Linked DNA regions of Homo sapiens. The protein of the gene in region 2 purifies or fractionates together with the protein of the main gene of each other region. This does not show direct contact. Each region holds a gene or a part of one and is shown on either strand. Other genes may lie near its edges.

The links.
Region 1: the proteins of WDR54 (region 2) and FLYWCH2 purify together in Homo sapiens (affinity purification with mass spectrometry; 3 studies listed by BioGRID and IntAct, with this or other methods). This does not show direct contact.
Region 3: the proteins of WDR54 (region 2) and OSCP1 purify together in Homo sapiens (affinity purification with mass spectrometry; 3 studies listed by BioGRID and IntAct, with this or other methods). This does not show direct contact.

The regions. Positions count from the first base shown.
Region 1 is NC_000016.10:2,893,114-2,899,865, forward strand, and holds the end of FLYWCH2 (FLYWCH family member 2), read left to right. Parts: intron 1-2,106; 5' UTR 2,107-2,207; intron 2,208-3,238; 5' UTR 3,239-3,336; coding exon 3,337-3,658; intron 3,659-5,662; coding exon of another isoform or gene 5,663-5,733; exon of another isoform or gene 5,734-5,841; intron 5,842-5,935; coding exon 5,936-6,036; 3' UTR 6,037-6,252; downstream 6,253-6,752.
Region 2 is NC_000002.12:74,417,101-74,424,766, reverse strand, and holds the start of WDR54 (WD repeat-containing protein 54), read right to left. Parts: upstream 3,038-7,666; 5' UTR 3,017-3,037; coding exon of another isoform or gene 2,951-3,016; intron 2,648-2,950; exon of another isoform or gene 2,615-2,647; coding exon of another isoform or gene 2,614-2,614; coding exon 2,392-2,613; intron 1,898-2,391; coding exon 1,835-1,897; intron 1,449-1,834; coding exon 1,382-1,448; intron 1,290-1,381; coding exon 1,236-1,289; intron 913-1,235; coding exon 785-912; intron 1-784. Other genes in the region: uncharacterized protein C2orf81, read left to right, coding at 3,207-3,224. UniProt on the Homo sapiens protein: Plays a role in the adhesion and fusion of the sperm-oocyte membrane through its interactions with IZUMO1 and IZUMO1R/JUNO.
Region 3 is NC_000001.11:36,447,386-36,455,206, forward strand, and holds the start of OSCP1 (protein OSCP1), read right to left. Parts: upstream 3,067-7,821; 5' UTR 2,985-3,066; coding exon 2,873-2,984; intron 2,181-2,872; exon of another isoform or gene 2,073-2,180; intron 503-2,072; exon of another isoform or gene 456-502; coding exon of another isoform or gene 428-455; intron 1-427. UniProt on the Homo sapiens protein: May be involved in drug clearance in the placenta.

The DNA.
Region 1 (6,752 bases), on a different chromosome or scaffold from region 2:
ACTCCATGTGTTCCTGGAAGCTCTCGGAACCCTCTCCTTTTGGGTTTTTATGGAGGCTTCATTACATAGGCATGATTGATTGAACTATAGGCCATTGGTGATCAACTTAACCTTCAGGCCCTCTCCCTTTCCTGGAGTTTGGAGGAGGGGCTGAAAGTCCCAACCCTCTAACCCTGCCTTGGTCTTTCTGGTGACCAGCCCCATTGAAGCAGCCCAGGGGCTGCCAGCCATCAGTCAGTGCCTAAGCATACAAAAAGACATCATTTTGGAGATTCCAGGAATTTTAGGAATTATGTACTGGGAGAGAGGGTCAAACACCAAATATATATTTCACAATATGAAAGAGCCCAATTTACGTATTTCACGATTCCCTTCTTGTTACAGCTTAACGAGATTTTTTTATTTTCCTGACTTTTCGCTTTGGAGAATTAGTCAATAGTTTAGGTCTGTCTTGTTCGTTTAATATGGGGTTTGAATTTGAGATGGGGCTGACGTCACTTTGGGGCCCTTTTCTTTTCTTCTTTTTTTTTTTTTTTTTTTTTGAAACGGATTCTCGCTCTGTCGCCCAGGCTGGAGTGCAGTGGCACGATCTCGGCTCACTGCAAGCTCCGCCTCCCAGGTTCACGCCATTCTCCTGCCTCAGCCTCCCGAGTAGCTGGGATTACGGGCGCCCGCCACCACGCCGGGCTAATTTTTTGTATTTTTTAGTGGAGACGGGGTTTCAACATGTTAGCCAGGATGGTCTCGATCTCCTGACCTTGTGATCCGCCCGCCTCGGCCTCCCAAAGTGCTGGGATTACAAGCGTGAGCCACCGCGCCCGGCCCCTTTGGGGCCCTTTTGTACAGCTCAGAGTTGGCCTGGCTGCAGGGCTGGGACTATGGAATGGCAAGGAGGTGCCTCAGGTGCCAAATATTAGGTTGGTGAAAATTAATTGCGGTTTTGTCATTGAAAGCAATGGCAAAACCGCAATTACTTTTGCACTAACCTAATATAAGGAGGCGTGCAGTCTGGGGGTCAGAGTGAGTGTGGAGGTCTCGGAGAATGGCTGCTGGCCTGGAGGAGGCTGCTAGGTCTGGGTCCCTGCCAGCCTTGTGGGGACCAACTGCTGTATCTTGCAGGAATTTGCACGCTGGGTATGCAAGAGGCTTCATCTTTTTTGGAGTCTGGGAGCGCTGCAGTGGCAGAACCGACACGGCGGGAGGCGCTAGAGGACCCGGGGTGGACTCGGACGTGGGGTCAGGGAACCTGGCATTTATTCCTGCCCGGACTGCCCACTCATGCTGCGGAGTGTGGGAGGCGTGGGGAGATCGGCCGCCAGAGGGACGTGCGCCGTAGCCAATCAGCGTGTGAAGCAGGGCGCTATGTGGTTGGGGCCTCCCGTAACTCTTTACGGCCCCAGAGTGGCCCCCAGGTCCCCGGCATCCCCACATCGCCCTGTGAGGCAGATGAGCAGAGCCGGAAGGGCCGCACGGGAGGAACAGGGGTTGGCTTGTCCGGAGGCGGACGGATAACGCGACCCCGATCCCTGCGGTACTCTGCAGTCATGTGACTCGCCGCCTGGCGCATTTCTTCAAGTGCCCACCCCCTCGAGAAGGTGCCCCTGGGGTGGGGGCTTCACATCTGCTTTTGTTTAGTGGTCAGAGGACTACAGAGGGAAGCTCTCAGGACAAGGCCCCCAACCCTGTACTCCAGTCCTGCATCCTTAGGCCCCTCTCATGGACAATAGGGTCTTAGAAAAAGCGCCAGGGTGCTGGGCATGGACCCCTCAGGACAGACGCATTGGGAGGGGTCCAAGGAAACCATGAGAACCTCAAGCCCAGGTTGGGGAATCGGCCCGAGGGGAAAGTGGGTGTCTCTGGGCCTTGTCCTGCCTGGGTCCTGGACAGGGGGCTAGGTGGCTGCCCAAGCTGCAGTCTTGTGTCTAGGCTAAAACTGTAAGCTGGGAAAGACCCCATGGTCTGCCCACCACCCAGTTGACCCCCAAAAGACAGAAAGGCCACCCCACACTGGCCTGGAGCCCCAGTCCTGAGGTGCTGCAGCACCAGTGTGGGGTGGCCCGGCACTTGCCCCTACAGGGTTACAACCCATCCTTTCTGCTTCTCCAGGCCAGAAGCCAAGGAGTCCTCAGTGACGGTGGGATCCACAACATCTCCACATCGCTGTCCCCACCCAGCCAGGGCAGCGCCAGCACTAGCTCAGACGCAAGGTTGGTGTGAGAACCAGTGGGTGTGGCCAGGCGCGGTGGCTCACGCTTGTAATCCCAGCACTTTGGGAGGCTGAGGCGGGCAGATCACGAGGTCAGGAGATCGAGACCACGGTGAAACCCCGTCTCTACTAAAAATACAAAAAATTAGCCGGGCGTGGTGGCGGGCGCCTGTAGTCCCAGCTACTCGGAGAGGTTGAGGCAGGAGAATGGCATGAACCCGGGAGGCGGAGCTTGCAGTGAGCCAAGATCGTGCCACTGCACTCCAGCCTGGGCGACAGAGCGAGACTCCGTCTCCAAAACAAACAAACAAAAAGAACCAACGAGCAGAGGAGCATGTGGGCCTTCAGACGGGGATGTGGCTGGATCTGGTTGTCCCACCTGCCAGGGCCAGCTGCAGTGCTATGGTCTGCAAAGTGCTGGCAGGTGCCTGGCCCATGCTCCCTGTGACAACACAAACTGAGCTAATGTCCCCAGAGTGTTTAGCTCTGATGCTTGGTGCCCAGGGACACTGATGTCTGTTAACATGGACAAAGTACACCAGATGCTGTGTGGTCATGGGCTCTGTGTCCACTCCATCTCTGCCACTCTGTGGCCGTGTGGATCACCCTGGCATGTCTCAGTGTCCTCAACTGTGACTGGGTCCATAAGAACAGCCTGCTGTCATAACAGGGGTGGGAGGTGGGACTGGAAACAGTCCTCAGGGTGGAAACCCTTCGTCCGTGCTCAGCATGTGGGAGGCCCATTGGTAGTGGCTGAGTTCTTAGTCCATTAGTCATTCTGATGGCCCCTTGTGGAGGGTGTTTACTGTGCACCTTTTCCAGATGGGGAAAGTGGGGTTGGATGGGGCTGACGTTCCCAAGGCTGCCAGGAGAGGAACTGGCAGAGCAGAAGCCTAGTTCCATCAGGCCCCCTGTCAGTCTTGGCCCCAGCGAGCAGTGAGGCAGCCCCATCTGCCCCACCTCCCTCCCAGATCCACGTCTAGAGCCTCCCAAGGGCTTCCACCACTGACGGGATTTTGCTTCCTTCCTTAGGACGGAACCGCTGGACTCCAGGTTCCTTGCCTGGGAGTAGGAGAAATCCACCTGCTGGGGGCTGAGTGTGGCCTGAGGGACAGGCCCTGGGTCCCGGGATGCCCCTGCCCGAGCCCAGCGAGCAGGAGGGTGAGAGTGTGAAGGCCAGCCAGGAGCCATCCCCCAAGCCAGGCACAGAAGTCATCCCGGCAGCCCCCAGGAAGCCCAGAAAGTTCTCCAAACTGGTCCTGCTCACAGCCTCCAAAGACAGCACCAAGGTGGCGGGGGCCAAGCGCAAGGGTGTGCACTGTGTCATGTCCCTGGGGGTGCCCGGCCCCGCCACCCTTGCCAAGGCCCTCCTCCAGACCCACCCCGAGGCCCAGCGGGCCATTGAGGCAGCCCCTCAGGAGCCTGAGCAGAAACGGAGCAGGCAGGACCCAGGTGAGGCTCCACAGCGGCCCCCCAGGACAGCTCGGCACCTCCCAGGGTGGCCCCCACAGCCGCGCTGGCTCCATCAGGCGCTTCTCCCTGGCATGCGGGTCCTTGTTCCCTGACTTTGACCACGTGTGGAGAGCAGTGGCACAGGGGTTAGGGCACAGGCCTGGGCATCCGCCGACCTCCAACCCTGCCTCTGAGCGGCCTTGCCTCTCTGTGTCTGTTCCCCACTCTGGAATGCGCTGCCTACTGGCTCCTTCACAAGGGAGGGTCTGAGGGTGCGGCGGGGCCCACAGGCAGCTGCCGTCAGCTTCAAGGTCTTGGCTCGCAGCTGTTCGATGAGGGTCTCTAAGACCGGGGGCTTGATGGGTCACCTTTCCATATGTTCTAGAAAGCTTCTTTGGTCTCACTCACCGTTCAGTCACTTAGTAACATCCACTGAACAGCAGCTGTGTGCAGGCTGGGCTCTGGAGACTCGAGTCACGCAGGATGAGACTCCCAGCAGACTAAGGCAGTGACCTCAGCCTGGCTCTCCGGGACTGCCCCTGCTCTCCCTACCTCCTCTGCACAATCACCCCCCACCAAGCCTCCGGGGAGATACAGCTCAGGGCTCACAGGTCCCATGGGAGAGTGGGGCTGGGGGTGTGGCCCTAGCTGCTGCGGGCTGGCTGGAGGTGATGGGGCAGGTTCATTCCCTGTGCTTTGCTGTGGGAGTGATGGGATGGATGGAGGCACTGAGCATCTTCAGTCCCTGCTCCCACTCCCCAGGGCCCTTGGCTCTGCCCCTGCTGTGTACTAGACCTTTCAGCTAGACTTGGGGAACATAGTCAGGTGGGCCATGGTAGCAGAGATGGGATGAGAGCAGGGCTGCCCCTTTCCCTGCACCCAGCTCTCCCTGAGGTGGCCCAGGCCATGCCCTGCTGTCCCCTGCAGGAGGACAGGTCCCCTCCTGGCCCCACAGCAGGTCCTGCCTCTGGGCTCTACCAGGGCAGGCAGCGGTGGGGGCAGGGCCCTAGGCAGCAGAGGAAATGGGCTGGGTACACCTTTTGAACTGGAAGTTCCAGGGAGATGGGGCAGGGGGCTGCCCAGTGGGTGGGAAGAAGGTGAGTTGGGGTTTCTTCCCAACTGGGAGTGGGCTCTGCCGTGCCCTGAGAAGAAGAGGCGTAGCAGGTGGCCTTGGCTTGTGACCTCTGAACAGGTGGTCCCCTGGGGTCAGCCAGAACAGGTGGTCCCCTGGGGTCAGCCAGGGCACTCAGCCTGGCAGCCCATTGTGAGAAAAGGTTCCTTCAGTTTGCTGGCCGTGCAGGGACCCTGCCTCACTGATGGAAATTGAGGGGTGAGTGGCCTGAGGTCACAGAGGGTCACAGCCCCACAGCCTCCCTGGGGCTGAGACCCCAGAATGCCTGAGATGGTGGTGTCCGCAGCCACAGGCTTGGAGCTTTCAAGGAACCTAATGGACCCCTCGGCCTCCATCCCTCTGCTGGAGTCTCAGGCCTGGTGTGAGCAGTGCTCTGGGACTCAGAGGGACCCCGTCCTCCCAGAGCCGGTGGGAGTGCCTGGCTCTTACTGCGAAGCCCCCACCATCCAGTCCTGCTCTGAGAGCCTCTGCCTGTCCCCCTGGCTTCTCCTGCCAACCTTGGGCAGAGGATGCAGTCCCCATGGCCTGTGGGAGGCAGGGCTCAGAGGAGCGAAGTCGCCACTCTGAGGCCACCAGGAGGTCCCTGCAGAGGGCAGAGGGGGTTGGAGTCTGGCTCAGGATCTGTTACACCTGAGCTCTGTGGAATGAGACCATCTCAAGGTCCTCCCAGCCCCTTTGAGACTCCTGCTCACTGCTGGGATCCATCTAGGCCTGGGGCCGTGGTGCCTTTGTGAGAATTGGAGCACAGCCATCTTCGCCAGATGAAAGGCAGAGCAGGGCTCCATCAGGCGCCAGGGGTCCCGCAGGCAATCACCCTCAGGCATCGACCACCCCCATCTGCCAACTCCTCCATCCTTCCATCCCCACCCCAGGTCCAGCAGAGGCGATGGCTGCGGCTTCCCAGTGCTCAGCACAAACTTGGCCTCAAGTTTCCTGGAAATGACTTTAGCAGCTTTTGTGGCCCTGGCCTGGTGGCCTTGGGAGCAGCGTCCCTGAGTGGCAGTCACTTCTCAGTCAGGCAGAGGCTTCTGGCCCTGGAGCATCCACTGGTTGGGGTGAGAGTGAGGCCTGGTAGACCCCCAACAGCCAAGCTGAGCCCTCCCATCTCCATTGACACCAGCCTGATCCACCCTCTTCTCTCGCAGGCACAGACAGAACAGAAGACAGTGGATTAGCAGCGGGGCCTCCTGAGGCTGCTGGGGAGAACTTTGCCCCCTGCTCTGTGGCGCCCGGCAAGTCCCTGTAACCTTGACAACAGGCGCATCCTCCCAGGCCACCAACCCAGCCATAGGCTCTTCTCTGTCCGCAGGGCTTCTGGGGCCAAATGGGTGAATCTTTGCTTTTAACATTGTGTGATTTCTTTTCTTTTTTTTTTTTTTTTTAGATCAAGTATAAGTTACTTTTGTAAGCAGAAAAATACTTTCAAACAAGAATAAAAGAAGCTGTTCGCTAGACCCCATAATGGGCAGGTTTTAAACATCCCAGGCTTCTGGGTCCTTTGAGGCTCAGCTCTGATGCCACCACCCCTGGGTCTCCGCACCCCAGCCCTTACTGGGCCCTTCCAAAGTGCCCCTTAGTCACTGCCCTCCCTGACCCAAGTCTCGCTTCCTCCATGAAGCCTCCCAGACTGACAGCTCCCAGGCACTAAGGGAGCTCAGGCTTGCTGAGAATGGTAGCTCCAGGATTCTGCTGAGGGAGAGGTAGGCCTGCAGCTCATGGGTGGGTTCAGGGAGGAACCTGACAAAAGCACATGCGGCCTGCCTGTCATGTTTTTTCCAGGGGATTTGTGGGCTGAGGAAACCTGAGTTCCTGCCCTGGCCCCCTGGGTGCCATCCCTGCTGGAGGGGAGATGAAGGAAGCACAGCTACCCTACTTGAGCTCCCAAGTCAGCGAGCCTCCAGGAGGCTTCCCATGAGTCCTCATTCTTTGACAACTGCCTCTGGGCTCAAGGCAATGTTAGGG
Region 2 (7,666 bases):
AGGGCAAGGTGTGGAGCTCTCACTAGCTAGACCCATCAGAAACCACCCCTACCACCAGGGTTCCCTTGGGAAGCATGAACTGCTTTCCTTGAATTTCTTCATGGAGTCCCATCCCCCAATAACATTAGGAGGGGGTGCATAATTGCCTCACTGGATGGATGATAAAACTGAGGCCACAGTGTCGTGACCTTCTGGAGGTCTCGTAGTGAACCAGTCACAGTCATGACTAGACCCTGGGCCCCTGCACCCCCAACACCAGGCAGCCAACACAACCTATGGGCCTAGCCCTATGCCAGGTACAATGGAGAATATGAATAAGAAAATATACACCCTGTTCTCAAGAGGTTTGCAAATTACTTGGGGAGACAAGAGTTGTCTTTTGAGGGCAGTGCCAATTCAGGTTTCAGCTAAGAGACATCAGTGGGAGCTAGAATATGGGGAAGGCTTCCTGGAGAGGATGGATGGCACTGGAGCTGGGCCTGAATAGGTGGGACTTGCCCTAGAGAAGGAAGCTGCACATTTCAGAGCTGGAAAGTATCTTAGAAACCATTTGTTCCAACTCCTCATTTCACATCAGTATTATAAAGTCTTAATTAACTATAAAATACTACATAAATGTAAAGTATCTCTGGCTTTATCACTGAACCTGGTTGCTGAAGACTAGGAAAATGTAGATTTGCCCAAAGCCATCCACCTGTTTAGTGGCAGAGCCAAGACTCAAAGCCAGGTCCCCTGCCTCCCAGGGTGGGGAAGGCTCCCAGATGGGTAGGGGAAGTCCACTCACCTGTCCCTGGGCAGGCTCGGTGGCAATGTCTGTGATTGGCATCTGGTGCCCAGCCAGCTCCTCGCTCAGTACAATGTTGGGACCCTTTGCTGGGATGTCAAACACCAGCACCCGGCCTGACCACGTTCCTGTATCCAGAACCAGTACTCCAGTGATGACTTCCTGACCCTCCTGGGTCTCCAGCCACCATACTCAACACTTACTCCATCCCAGAAACCTTAGTAACAAAACCCCCTCTCACTGCTCCAACGGCCATGCCCCTTCATTCACTAGCCTTGTCTTATCCCACCCTGACCCTCTGAACCCTTCCATGGTTTACTGGAGTCTCTGATTCCACTCCACTTCCACCCTTCCCTCTAACTTTCCACAATTTCCTCAGGCCCTCATTATTCTCCTGGCCACAGCCCACATGCCCCAGCACCCCTCCATGCCCTGCACTTGGCTCCCTCACCCACACAGATGAAGTGGCCACTGGCAGCAATTCCCCGGGCAAACACAGCCTGTACTGAATATGAAAGGGGAGAATGATCAGAAATATCCCCTCCTGCAGCCCTAGCAAACACTCCCTGCCCCCACCCCACTTGGTCCTGCAGGTACCTGGGGAGGCATCTCCAGAGTCCAGTGCATGCCAGTAGACCATGGTGTAGCCATTGGACTCGTACATCTGGAAGACCGGGGCAAGAACCAGGGGGCATAACCCAACTGACCTCTGCTGAGTACTTCACATATCCGTGTTAGCCTTAGCCCATTTAATCCTCAAAACAAATCTGGGATGTAGGTACTATTTTTATCCTAATTTTTTCAGAGGACAACAGTGAGAGTGAGAAGTTAATAGTGTAAGGACATACAGCTAGTAAAGGGGCAGATACTGGAGGTGGCACTTGGAAACTGGAAAAGATGGAAAGATTGAAGATAAGAAATAGAAAAAGAGTGAGTGGGCCAAGCATGTGAAAAGTCTGGAAGTGTTTAGAGGCAAGTGGGAAAGTCTGGAAGCCTGGCAGGGAAGCTGAGAAGGCTCTGGTGGGGCAAGCAGGAGAGTCCTCTTCTTACCTGTATTCCTCGATGTGAGGTGAGTACCAGCAGCACTCGGAAGGGGAGGACACACCAGTGGACCTGGAGGGAGGTGCATCAGTGTAGGGAGAAAATCAAAGCAGGGAAGATGAGTTTGTTTGTTTTTTTTTTTTTTTTGGGGGACGGAGTCTTGCTCTGTGGCCCAGGCTGGAGTGCAGTGGCGCCATCTCGGCTCACTGCAACCTCAGCCTCCTGGGTTCAAGCGATTCTCCTGCCTCAGCCACCCAAGTAGCTGGGATTACAGGTGCACGCCACCACACCCGGTTAATTTTTTTTGTATTCTTAGTAGAGAAGAGGTTTCACCATGTTGGCCAGGCTGGTCTCGAACTCCTGGCCTCAAGTGCCCGTCTCAGCCTCCCAAAGTGTTGGGATTACAGGCGTGAGCCACCGCGCCCGGCAGGAGAGGGGAGATTCTGAGGTTAGGACATGCCTGGGGAGATTCTGAGGTTAGGACATGCCTGCTCCTGAAGGTTTGGAGAGAAAAGGCTGGGGGTAGGACTGGGTTCAGCAACATCACTCCCAGCTCCATGCCTCACCTGAGTGATAAGTGGGGGACTCACTCCAGCACCCTCCTTAGCGTGGAGCTGGCGCTGGGCCAAGGGCACACCCTCAGGAGCAGCGCTGAGAAGCTGGGCGCTTGGTCCATGAACCACGCCAAAATACGTGAGGTTGCGAGCCGGCAGCTGCAGCACACTGAGGTTGTTGCACAGGGCGGCGGCCGAGCCTCGCAGGGGAATGGAGCGCTCCCAGCGGAACATCCTGTGTGGGGGTGCAGCCGAATCACCAGGCGCGCTACAAACAGACGCAGCGGAGATGCCCGAGGGCGGCTATCATCGAGCATTTCGGAAGATGCCTGAGACTGGGTCATAGGATGGGGTGCCCAGAGGACGGTGATGGGGGAGGGTCTCGAGGAGCAAGACAGGGGAGTCCCAGGGCTGTTTTGGGGCGACGGGGGAATCGCAGAGGAGGAATGGGGATGACACAGGACCACCCGATGGCCCCAAGCCCGCGAGCCAAATAAGTGTGATGAAGCCCCCAAGGCTTTCTCCCTCGGCTCGGATCCCTGAAGCCCCCGGCCTAGATCAGAGGTAACACCTGCAGCCCCAGATCGGCTCGCCTGACTCCTGGTTCGTAGGGTCCCTCCAAATCCGCCGCCACCATAGAGACGACGCACGTACGCACGGCCCTTGGGCGGGGTGAGCGGCCGGAACGTGCCGCGGGCGGCGCGGTTGCCGGGGCAACTGTGGGCGGGGCGAGCGACCCCGAGCCCGTGGTTGCCCAGGCGACTGTTAGGTGGCTTACGCGGCCCGGATGCAGCAGAAACACCAGCGTTGCTGCGACCGCGTTGGCGATGGCGCACGAAGGCTCGGTGAGCTTCAGTTCAGCTGGGGATGCGCCAGAGCCAGGGTCGGCCGTTAAGGTCGGTGTCGGGAACAGTGGGCTGGCTCTGGGCCGCCCAGTGCCCCTACTTGCTCCCGCCCACCGCGCGGGAGTTTAGATGACCAAGGAAGCCACGTCGGTACTCGGGCAGAAAACCTACACCTGCACGGTGCCCACTCAAACGCTTTGTTACACTCAAGCCATGAGGGAAAGGGTCAGTGGGTGGTGTAGAGCCCGAGAACAGGAAGTGGATTTTGAAACAGCTAATGAATGTAGTAAGTCTCTTACATGGTGGTGCGTATTTAAATGGATGAGCATTTAGAGAGGGAAGATAACAGAAAAAATCTATTTCGAGAATTTCAAGAGGAAGAAATATATTAAATAATTCAGAGACTGCACTTGAAAGTCAAATTGTTTAAGAGCCAATCAATTTTAAAATAAAGAAAACGGGGCCGGTCTCAATGGCTCATGCCTGTAATCCCAGCACTTTGAGAGGCTGAGGCGGGAGGATTGCCTGAGCTCAGGAGTTCAAGACCAGCCAGGCCAACATGGCGAGACCCCGTCTCGACTAAAATACAAAAAATTAGCTGGATGTGGTGGCGCGGTGCCTGTAATCCCAGCTACTCGGGAGGCAGAGGCAGGAGAATTGCTTGAACTCGGGAGGCGGAGGTTGCAGTGAGCCGAGATCGCGCCACTGCGCTCTAGCCTGGGTGACAGAGAGAGACTGTCTCAAAAAAAAAAAAAAAAAAAAAAAAAAAAGAAGAAGAAGAAAGAAAACGGATTTGAAGAGCCTTTGTGCAAAAATATCTCTGTCCCTTCTGGTCACCATCACGGGTGTCAGATGCGAGGCTGGGAGGGGAGGTCTAAGGAAACAACTCTCTTTACTCAGTCCAGTCAGCCCTGCTCTAGTCAAGCTTGGCCTGGGCTATGGGCCACTCCTGGTGCTTGCTACAGGGCTGTTCTCACTGGTGGATAGGGTTAATGAGACTTCAGGGATTTTGAGTTCTGCAAGACTTAGGAAACAGCAGATTTGGGGGGATAATGAATTTTAGGAAACAGATATGAGACAAGGTTTTAGCGGGGCAATAGGCAAAGGTTTGGGAAGATCACATTTGGAAGTACATTTTGGAAGGAACCAGGTTCAGGGAGACTGTTGTGGGGAATTGAGGGAGCTCCCAAGAGATTGTTTGTAAACTTTTTATGTCTCTAAAGTGAGTTTTGGGGACTAGTCTTTTTTTTTTTTTAAGTGATTACAAAAGGAAACAAACTCATTGTAGAGAACTTACAAAATAGAAAAGAGCATAGGAAGGAAACGTATCCTCTGTTATCATTTTGAAGTTTTCCTTTTGTTGAACACATAGTGGTTTACATATATGAGATCATAATTGATGTGTAAGTTTGTATCCTGCTTCTTTCAATTAACGTTACATCATAAACATTTGCTTTATGCCATTGCAAATTCTTTCTAAAGATTACCTTTAATGGCTGGGTTGGTGGCTCATGCCTGCAAGGTGGGCAGATCACTTGAGGCCAGTTCAAGACCAGTCTGGCCAACATGGCGAAACCCCATCTCTACTAAAAATAGAAAAAAAATTAGCCAGGCCTGGTGGCAGGCGCCTGTAATCCCAGCTACTCCGGAGGCTGAGGCAGGAGAATTGCTTGAACCTGGGAGGCAGAGGTTGCAGTGAGCCGAGATCTTGCCACTGCACTCCAGCCTGGGTGACAGAGCGAGATTCCGTCTCAAAAACAAAAACAAACAAACAAAAAAAGATTACCTTTAATCATTGCATAATATTTCAGTATATATAGCATGTCAATTATTTATTCTCTTTTTAAAGACATGTTTTCAATATTCTGCTATTATAAAAATACCGCAGAGAATTTGTTGGAGAATATATTTTTATCTTCATTTCAGAAAATGCCTTTTGGTTGTATTTATAGAACTGAAATTGCAGGGTTGAGGAAGTGAAAACATTTTTTAATGTCTTCATGCATACTGTTGCAGCATGGTATCACACTAAACCTTTGCCAATGCTGAGTATTCTTGTTTTTAAAATAATTCCAATTTGATGAACTAGAAATCAGAATGTCAATACTATATTTATTAGTCATCTACAGTCCCTCTCTTGTGAAATGTCATGTCCTTTGCTTATCTTTGGGATCTTAAATGGTTTTTCTTCTTATAGTTTAAATTTTTATTGCAATATAGCCCAAGCTGGACTTGAACTCCTGGGCTCAAGCAATCCCCCTGCCTCAGCCTCCCGAGCAGCTGGTACTGTGGGTGTGCGCCACTGTGCCTGGCCATTTTTCTTCTTCTATTTTTTATTTTATTAGTTTTTTTTTTCTTTTTTGAGACAGAGTCTCGCTCTGTCACCCAGGCTGGAGTTCAGTAGCATGATCTCAGCTCACTGCAAACTCTGCCTCCCGGGTTCAAGTGATTCTCGTGCCTCAGCCTCCCTAGTAGCTGGAATTACAGGCGCCCACCACCATGCCTGGCTAATTTTTGTATTATTAGTAGAGACGGGGTTTCACCATGTTGGCTAGGCTGGTCTCGAACTCCTGACCTCAAATGATCCACCCACCTCGGCCTCCCAAAGTGCTGGGATTACAGGCGTGAGCCACTGCGCCCGGCCATTTTTTTTTTTATATGAGCTTTTAATTTACTCGGGGATATTTATCTTTTTTCATATTTGTTGCAAATGTCTTTGAGAGGCTCTGGAGTCAGACAGACTTGCATGTGAATGCATTCTGACTTCACTACATCCTACTTGTATGATACTGGGTAAATTACCATAAAATGGAGATAAGAATAGTTGGTTAAAAAAAAAAAATGTAGAGAACTTTTTAAGCTCCCCTGAGCCGGGGCTGTGCTCTTCTAAGTGGGACTCCGAGCCTGGGCTATTTCTGGCGCTGGCGCGGCTCCAGGAAGGCATCCGCATTTGCGACCAGGGGCGGCTGCGGTGGAGACTGGCCTGTCCTCAGCGCCCAGCACCGCTGCTCCCGGCAAACCGGAGCATGCACCGCAGGCCAGCGGCCGAGTTCGCCCATCCCAGCCATCACTTTTCCAACTAGTCCTTAGAGAAGGGAAGATGAGCGAGTCGAGCTCGAAGTCCAGCCAGCCCTTGGCCTCCAAGCAGAAAAAGGACGGCACTGAGAAGCGGGGCCGTGGCAGGCCGCGCAAGCAGCCTCCGGTGAGTCCCAGGACAGCGCTGGTAGGGAGTCAGAAGGAGCTCAGCGAAGTGCCAACACCTAAGAGACCTCGGGGCCGACCAAAGGGAAGCAAAAACAAGGGTGCTGCCAAGACCGGGAAAACCACCACAACTCTGGGAAGGAAACCAAGGGGAAGACCCAAAAAACTGGAGAAGGAGGAAGAGAAGGGCATCTCGCAGGAGTCCTCACTGGAGGAGCAGCTTCCTTCTGGGACTGGACAGCTTTGATCTGCTCCCAACCCCCCACCTCCCACCCCCCACCCCTTCCCTACACCCACCATCACCACCGCCTCCAGCCACCACCCTCATCTTCCACCTGCACCTTCACCACCACACTACACAACACACCAGCCGCTGCAGGTCCCTATGGGCTGAGTGGAGAGGACTTTTCCCCTGGCCTCTTCCCATCCCTACCCCCTCCTCCCCCCGTCCACCCACTCATACACATGTGCCCTCCTGGACAAGGCTAATGTCCTGCTTAGCCGCACCCTGCACCTGCTGCGTCCCTGATCCCTTGGTGGTGACATTGCTCTCTGGGCTTTTGGTTTGGGAGCCACTTCTCTGCTCCTCCACTGTTGCCTCTGGCTTCCCATAGAGGGGCCTGGGAGGGTTCCCCTGGTCTTAAAAGGGGCCCAAGCCCCCATTCTGGCACACCCCACTCCACTGTCCTGGCAGCAGCAGGTGTGGCCAATGGAGGGGGGTGCTGGCCCCCAGGATTCCCCCAGCCAAACTGTCTTTGTCACCACGTGAGGCTCACACCTTTCATCCTTCCCCACCTTCCCTAGTCCCTGCACTAGGTTGGACAGCCCCCATTGGCTACAGGAAAGCGGGAGGGGTGTGAGTCCCCTACTCCCTCTTTGCAGTGGCCCCAGCCCCCTTACCGTCTGCCTGGGATCTGAGTACATATTGCAGTGATGGAGATGCAGTCACCTATTGTCCAGGTGAGGCCCATGAGCCCTGTGGCAGCTACCTGAGGTGGGCTGGGGCTGCTCCCCCAACCCTACTTTGCTTCTACCACTTGGCCATTTTCCTCTCCTCAGATGGGGCACCAATAACAAGGAGCTCACCCTTCCCACTCCCAGCCCTCCTGCTCCTGCCACCCCCCCAGGTTCTGGTTCCATTTTTCCTTTGTTCACAAACTACCTCTGGACAGTTGTTTTGTTTTTGGTTCAATGTTCCATTCTTTGACATCTGTCATTGCTGCTGCTAGCAGCGCCAAATG
Region 3 (7,821 bases), on a different chromosome or scaffold from region 2:
CCTACCAACCCCCACTAAGATTCTGATATAGTCCCCAAGGTATGGCAGCAGAGTATAGTGGTTATAGTAAGGGGACTAAGTGGTTATAGTAAGGGGACATTGGCTGAGTATGAGGACATTGGTTATATGAGGGGACATTGGTTATAGTAAGGGGACATTGGCTGAGTATGAACTTTGGAGCCTGATGCCTTGGGCTCAAATCCTTTACTTTTCCTCCTACCAGCCATGTAACTCTGGGCAAATTAGTCTTAGTTTCTCCATCTGTAAAATGGGGATAGTAATATTACCTATGTGTTACAATAGTTGGGAGGATTAAGGTGTTTAAGAGGAGCCCTTGGTACAAAGTAAGTGCTTGATTTTTCATTGTTTTATTGTTGATTGCTGTCACTAGAATCAGTTACTGGAGTGGACTGATCAATAGCCCTACCTCCAGTGAATGTCCAGAAGGGCTGCATCAGGCTCCATATAGTATCTCACATAGTGTTTGACACTCAGTCAAAATCTGTGGAATGAATGAGTGTGCGAATGTAAATTACTAAAGATGGCCGAAACTCCCAAAACCATATTTAGCAAAAGCAGAAAAAAGGCTATAACTCCTAAAGGTAAAGCTGTCCTCTAGTATTCCAAGGGCCTTGTCCAGACCTCCTCTTGAAAGATACCTATTACTCATTGTGTTAAACATATTAAATACATTATTTCATTCAATCCTTACAACTTTGCTTTAACATATATGTATTATTACCATTTTATGGAGAAACAGGTTTATAGAGGTTACACCCAAAGGGCATGCAATTAGTTAAATGGTAAAGCTGGAATTGGGATCCAGGTCTGTAAGACTCTAGAGAGTATGTTCTTAATTGCTAATTTACACTATCTTCCAAGATGCAGACTACCTACCAGTCTGAGGACTCCAGCATGTCACCTCATTGGTGCCACTAGCCTGAATGAAATCAGATCACACAGGCACCAAGGAAAACAGAACCCTCTCAAAGGAAAAATGACAATGCTATATAAAACTGCCAATTTAGATAATCAGTTCAAAAAACATTTTGTGATCACTAATTTATTCTGGTCTAGGAATTATGGTAGGTGCTGGAGTACAAAGATGAATAAGACAATCAAGCGGGAGATAGACATATACACAGATCATTTCAGTATAGCATGGCCAGTGGTAAGGTACTGAGGAGCAGGCATGGGGTGCTATGGGAGCACAGGCTGCTATGAGAGCATGCACAGGCCCTTTCTGCATATGGGGAGGATTCCTGAAGGAGATGATTCTTAAGCCGAATAATGCAGGATTGAAGGGGAAGAATGTAGGGATGGGAATTACTAGCACAGAAATACGAACAAACATGGTTTAAGCGGAGATCTATGAGCAGTTTGGTATTATTGGGAAACAGGAGGCAGGCAGTGGTGGAAGAAGGGACTGCAGAGGAAGACAGAGATCAGATAAGGAAGGGCCCTGAAATGGCCTGTGCAAGGACTTGGTCTTAACCCAGATGGCAGTGGAAAGCTGACAAAGGGTTTTAGGCAGGGGCAAGTTTGGACAGATACACATTTTAGAAAGCTCATTGGCGGCAATGTGCAGAATGAATGGAGGGGGTATGTTATAGGGAGTTATTTTTAGCTCTTTATGCATGGACTTGCACTCAGTCACACACACACAATAGTTAATATCTGAATATGTATGCTTAGCATCTGAATATGTATGTTGAACATCAATTGAGCATACAAAGATTAATGGAGAGAATGTTTTAATTGGCGGCCATGTCAATTGCCTTTTCAACTTTTCCTCCTCCACTTTGAAATATAATATTTCCTTCATACTTAATCCTAGGAAATTTGGTATAAGCAAGTTGTTTGCCGAGAAGGGAGGAAAAGAGGAAAAGGAACAGAGTGGCAGAGTGTTCTGAGTCGTCATTTTTCTGGGGATTAGTGTGGTGTCCATGGGAGGCAGATTTTGCATTTTCGAAGCTCTCATATAATTATTTTCACAATTGTATTCCCCTCCAACACTTGTGAGGAGATTTATAACTTTCTTATTTTTTTCATATTTATCTATATTATTTTAGAACACCAAATTTCTAGAAATACTTCTGAGATGAGTAAGACCAATCTCCAGCTTATGTGGGAAGATACTACCATAAAGAAATTAAGAATCTGAACCTGGGCTGGACGCGGTGGCTCACGCCTATAATCCCAGCACTTTGGGAGGCCGAGGGGGGCAGATCGTTTGAGTCCAGGAATTGAAGACCAGCCTGGGAAACATGGTGAAACCCCATCTCTACTAAAAATACAAAAATTAGCTGGGTGTGGTGGTGCATGCCTGTAATCCCAGCTACTTGGGAGGCTGAGGCACGAGAATCGCTGGAACCCAGGAGGCAGAGGTTGCAGTGAGCCGAGATCGTGCCACACACTCCAGCCTGGGCGACAGAGCGAGACCCTGTCTCAAAAAAAAAAAAAAAAAAAAAAAAAAAAAAAAATCAGAACCTGTTCCTTGGGGGTAAAGAGGATGCTTGGACTAGCAAGGGGTATGATACTAGATGGTGGGCAGCTGGGACTCCTACATTTGGAAGGCACTGATTGACAAGAGAGACTGGGAAATCACCTCTCCCATTTGAAGAGATGGGGAAATTAGGGAGGTCAGGCACCCTAGTGTCCACTGGGAGTATTAAGTTCCTCTGCTGTGAAAAAAGCTTTTGGGGGGATTTGACTCCCGAGGGGCTCCAAATGGATGTGGCTTGTAAGAAAGGTCCCTGGTTATAAGAGTGAAGTGTGTAGGGGTGCGGGTCTGGCTGTGGGTGTTAGGGCGATGATGAGAGGGCCGGGCTGCTGGCTGCGGGTCTGGCTGAGCGGGCCGGGGGCCTCTCACCTTTGCGGGCCTTGTCTCCCGGGATGTTCTGGGCCCGCAGCCGTTGGTCGAGGATGTAAAGCATCTCCCCGCCCAAGTTCAAGAAGAGCAGCGGTAGCGTCCGCACCGACATGGTGCTGGAAACGAGCTGGACTGGTGAAGAGCCCCGGGGTTCGGTAGCCAGTGGCCTGAAGGCCAGGCCGCAGCGTCCCAATAGTCCGGTTGCTGGGGCAACGCCGTGACGGGAAGAGCGAGCCAATCAGAAGGCGGTTTGGTGGGAGGTGCCCTGAAGACGGGAGCTAATTGGTCTGGGTGGTGGACCGTCCCGGGGGGATTGGTCCGAGCCAGAGGCCGGCGCGGCGTTGGGCGCGGCTGGGGAGCTGTGCTTCTGAGAGTAGGTTTCCCTCGAAAGGGCGAGGGCCGGGCCAGGGCTGGGGGTGGTCTCGACACAGCCAGCCCGGCGCTTGGGACCCCGGCCGCTGGCGCGGGGCCTCAGGTTCCTATAACAGAGGAAAGCCCAGGCAGAACGGCATTAGAGCAGGCTCGGGTCAGACGGACCTGGGTTGGAATCACGGCTCGTGATTTCTTGCTGTGTGACTTCGGGCAGGGTTTGAGCCTTGGCTTCCTCTTACGTAACATGGAGCTGGCACTCACATCACAGGGCGGCTGAGAGGAATCAGTCAGATCATGGAAAGGCCCCGAAAGCACTCAATAAAAATGGTAACTGACTTTTCTTTTAGACGAGGGAAGGATCAGAAGTCCTGAGTCGTTTGCATCGCCTCCCAAAAGTTTACTTGAAGTGAAGCCCCTCCTGGTTTCATACTCCATGAAGCAAACCAGTCCCGTCCGTCCCCGTGTGTCCAGTTCCCAGAGGATGCGCCTGGGGGCTCTGGGAAGTTCCCTCCTCGACGCTGTTCCGAAGGCCTCCCAACCATTTCTTTTTTCTTTTTTTTTTTTTTTTGAGACGGATTTTGCCCTTGTCGCTCAGGCTGGAGTGCAGTGGCGCCATCTCGGCTCATTGCAACTTCCGCCTTCAGGGTTCAAGCGATTCTCCTGCCTCAGCCTCCCGAGTAGCTGGGATTACAGGCGCCCGCCACCATGCCCGGCTAATTTTTGTATTTTTAGTAGAGACGGGGTTTCACCATGTTGGCCAGGCTGGTCTGGAACTCCTGACCTCAGGTGATCTGCCCGCCTGGGCCTCCCAAAGTGCTGAGATTACAGGCGTGAGCTATCACGCCCGGCCCCAACCATTTCTCTTTGAGGGCAGCGACTCCCTTCCTTACCTCCATCTTAAGCTCCAGGATTACTTTTTGCCATCTGCTGTATATTTTTACTCTGATGAACAACCATTTCTGTAAATTTCAGTACTTCCAAAACCTACTAATTATCTTTCCCTCCAGCTACTCAAACTTGAAACTTGGGCCTTGGCTTCCAAATCTGTTTCCCAGGGTCTTTTATCAGTCATCATATTATGCTTTTTCCTCCAACACCTTTCTTACATTCATCCCTTCATTTGTTTTTCTGTCTGCATTGCTATGTTCCTCTGTATCACTGTTCTTTTCTCTCTTCTACCTTGCACTGGCTGCTAAGCTAAATGTCAGAAGACATCACTTTTTTTTTTTTGAGATGGAGTTTCACTCTTGTCGCGCAGGCTGGTGTGCAATGGCACGATCTCGGCTTACTGCAACCTCCGCCTCCTGGTTTCAAGCGATTCTTCTGCCTCAGCCTCCTGAGTAAGCTGGGATTACAGGCATGGACCAGGGCACCATGCCCGGCTAATTTTGTATTTTTAGTAGAGATGGGGTTTCACCATGTTGGCCAGGCTGGTCTCGAACTCCTGACCTCAGGTGATCTGCCCGCCTCGGCCTCCCAAAGTGTTGGGATTACAGGCATGAGCCACTGCGCCCGGCCAGCATCACTGTCAACATGACACATCCCTTCAGTGGTTTCCTACTCTTTGCCAGATCACAGTCTAGATGCCTTGGCATGGCATTCCAGGCTCTCCACAGGCTCCAGCTACCTTTTTTTTTTTTTTTTTTTTAAAGAGATAGGGGTCTTACTTTGTTGCCCAAGGTTGGAATGCAGTGGCACCCTGGTGGCTCACTGCAGCCTAGAACTCCTAGCCTCAAGTGATTCTTCCACCTCAGACTCCTTAGTTGTTGGGATTTCAGGTGAGAGCCACCATACCCGGCCAACTACCTTTTTAAAGCCATCTCCTGCACCTGGCCACCTCCTCTCCCCCAGTCCAGTTGAACTTGTCAGCAGGCTGCCTCTTCCTCATTACCACACCACTGAAAAGTCTTGTCCTGCCATAACTGAGCCCAAGTCCTTCCCATATTAACATTCTCCTTCCATCCCTGCTAGTCTGTTTTCCTTCCTTTCCTTCCCAGTGAAGTGTTTTGAACGAGTTGACAACACTCACAACTGGAACCTCCTTAACATCCTCACTCCCCACCTCATTGCAACTGGTATTATGCTCCCTGAACCCCACTGAAACTGCTTCACCATGAATACTTTTTGGTCCTTCCCTTAACTGATATCTCAGCATCAGGACTATACAGTATCCCATGGCTGGCAGCCCAAGGCTTTGTTTAATTTGGTTATTTTGCCTGCTCTGTGCTCTGTTTTAAAAGGGAATACAGGCCAGGCGCAGTGGCTCACACCTGTAATCCCTGCACTTTGGGAGGCCAAGGCCAGCAGATCACTTGAGGTCAGGAGTTCAAGACAGGAGTTCAACACCAGCCTGGCCAACATGGTGAAACCCCATCTCTACTTCGCTGGGTGTGGTGGCACACACCTGTAATCCCAGCTACTGTGGACGCTGAGGCAGGAGAATCGCTTGAACCTGGGACGGGGAGGTTGCAGTGAGCCAAGATCACACCACTGCACTCTAGCCTGGGGGACAGAGCAAAAACTCTGTCTCAAAAAAATTAAAATAAATAAATAAGAGGGAATACAACTAGGATAGGAATGTAATAAACACCTTAGCATCATTACTTCATGTTAGGCCTTCATGCATTTTTGTTACCTGCCTTGCTCCCAAAAGCATTTGAGTTTGCTGTAGTGTACTCTTCCCTTAGCTTCTCAGACCTTTTTCTTGGTCCCTAAGCAGTGTGGTATAGTGAACAGGACATAGGCTCTGGAGTCAAGACAGAGCCAGCTTTGAATCCTAGACCTTTCTCTTCCCAGCTATATGAATTTGGACAAGTTACCTAACCTCTCTGAGTCTCAGTTCTCTCATGACTCTCTCATCTCTCATGGCTAAAATGAGGATAATTAGCCAATGTGCAGAGTAAAGGTGGCTGTGAATATTAGATAATGTGCCTAAGGAAGCAGTTAAAACAATGCCTTTTGACCGGATGCAGTTGCTCGCGCCTGTAATCCCAGCACTCTGGGAAACCAAGGCATTTGGGAGGGCAAGGATTGCTTGAGGCCAAGAGTTTGAGTAACCTGGGCAACATAGTGAGACCCTCTCTACAAAAAATAAAAAAATTAGCTAAGCGCAGTGGCTTACACTTATAGTCCTAGCTACTTAGGAGGCAGAGGCAAGAGGATTGCTTGAGCCCAAGAATTTGAAGTTAGTGAATTATGATCAGGCTACTGCACTCCAGTTGGGGCAACAGAGCAAGATCCTGTCTCTAAAAAAACAACCAGCCAAACCAACCAACCAACCAACGAAAAACACACAAATGCCTTTGCAGTAGGGCCTGATCCATTAAAATGTGTTCCTTTTTCTTTCCTTCCCCTTGGCTAGCCCCCTTAACTGTTAGTACCTGGCCCTCTGACACACTACCTCTAAGTAGCCGTGGCCACTTGGAAGTCCTGGCCCATTAAAGGCCTTCCCTACAATTCCTGGAAGTGATATCTGAATAGTGGATCTTCAGTTCTGAGCCTCTCATTTCTGCTTCTGCAGACACCCAGGCTCTGTTCTACCCCTACTTCACCTTCTCCTCCAGCTCAGCTGCTCCTTCTGACTTAGGCTAAGCTCTCAGGGATCATCCTTCCCATCCAGACATGGTCCTTTTTTCTTATACACTCCATCCCTGGGCAGTTTCACTTATGCCCATGGGCTCAATCACCCAACAACTCGCAAACCTCTCTAGTCCAGACCTCTCTACTGAGTCCTAGATCTAAACTTCCAACTGCTCTTTGGATAGCACTTTAGCACACCTTTCTCCCTTTTTGGCTTTCCTCAGTGGCTTCCCTTCCCAGAGTGAAGTCCAGTGTATTTCTCCAGTGTTATGGGCCGAATGTGTCCCCGACCAAATTCATATGTCGAAGCCCTAACTCCAATGTTACAGTATTTAGAGATGGGGCTTCTCAGAGTTAACTAGGGTTACATAAGGTCGTGAGTACGGCCCTCATGATGGGATTAGTGGCCTTGTAAGAGTGAGCTCTCCCCACTGCATGGACCAAGGGAAAGGCCATGTGATGACATTGAGAAGGTGGCTTTTCCAAGCTAGGAAGAGTCCTCACCTGAAACTGAATTGGCTGGTACTCTGATCTTGGAATCCCCAGCCTCCAGAACTGTGAAAAAACGAACTCAAAATAAAAATCCTGTGAAGTCACCTAATCTATGGTATTTTGTTATGGCAGGCTGAGACACCCAGAAAGCTCTACATCACCTGGTATTTGCCTACCCCTCTGACCTTGTCTTCTTACTATTCTCTTTGTTCTGTTTTAGACACATTGTCTTCCTTGGGTTCTTCAAACATACCAAGCATGCTCAGGCTTCAAGGTGTTGGCACTTAACTTGGTGTAAATGGATGGGCTTTATGGGGAACGGGGATCCATAACTCCCTAGAATTTATAAGCAATGCTTTTGCATATGCTTCCTGGGGATAGGACTTGTAGTTTTGATCAGATTCTCTACGTGAACACTGATATCCTCCAGCCCCAGTACACTGCTCTGATCTCTCCTCCTCCCATCTACCATCCACACAGCTGTTGCTTAACTATCTAAAACACAG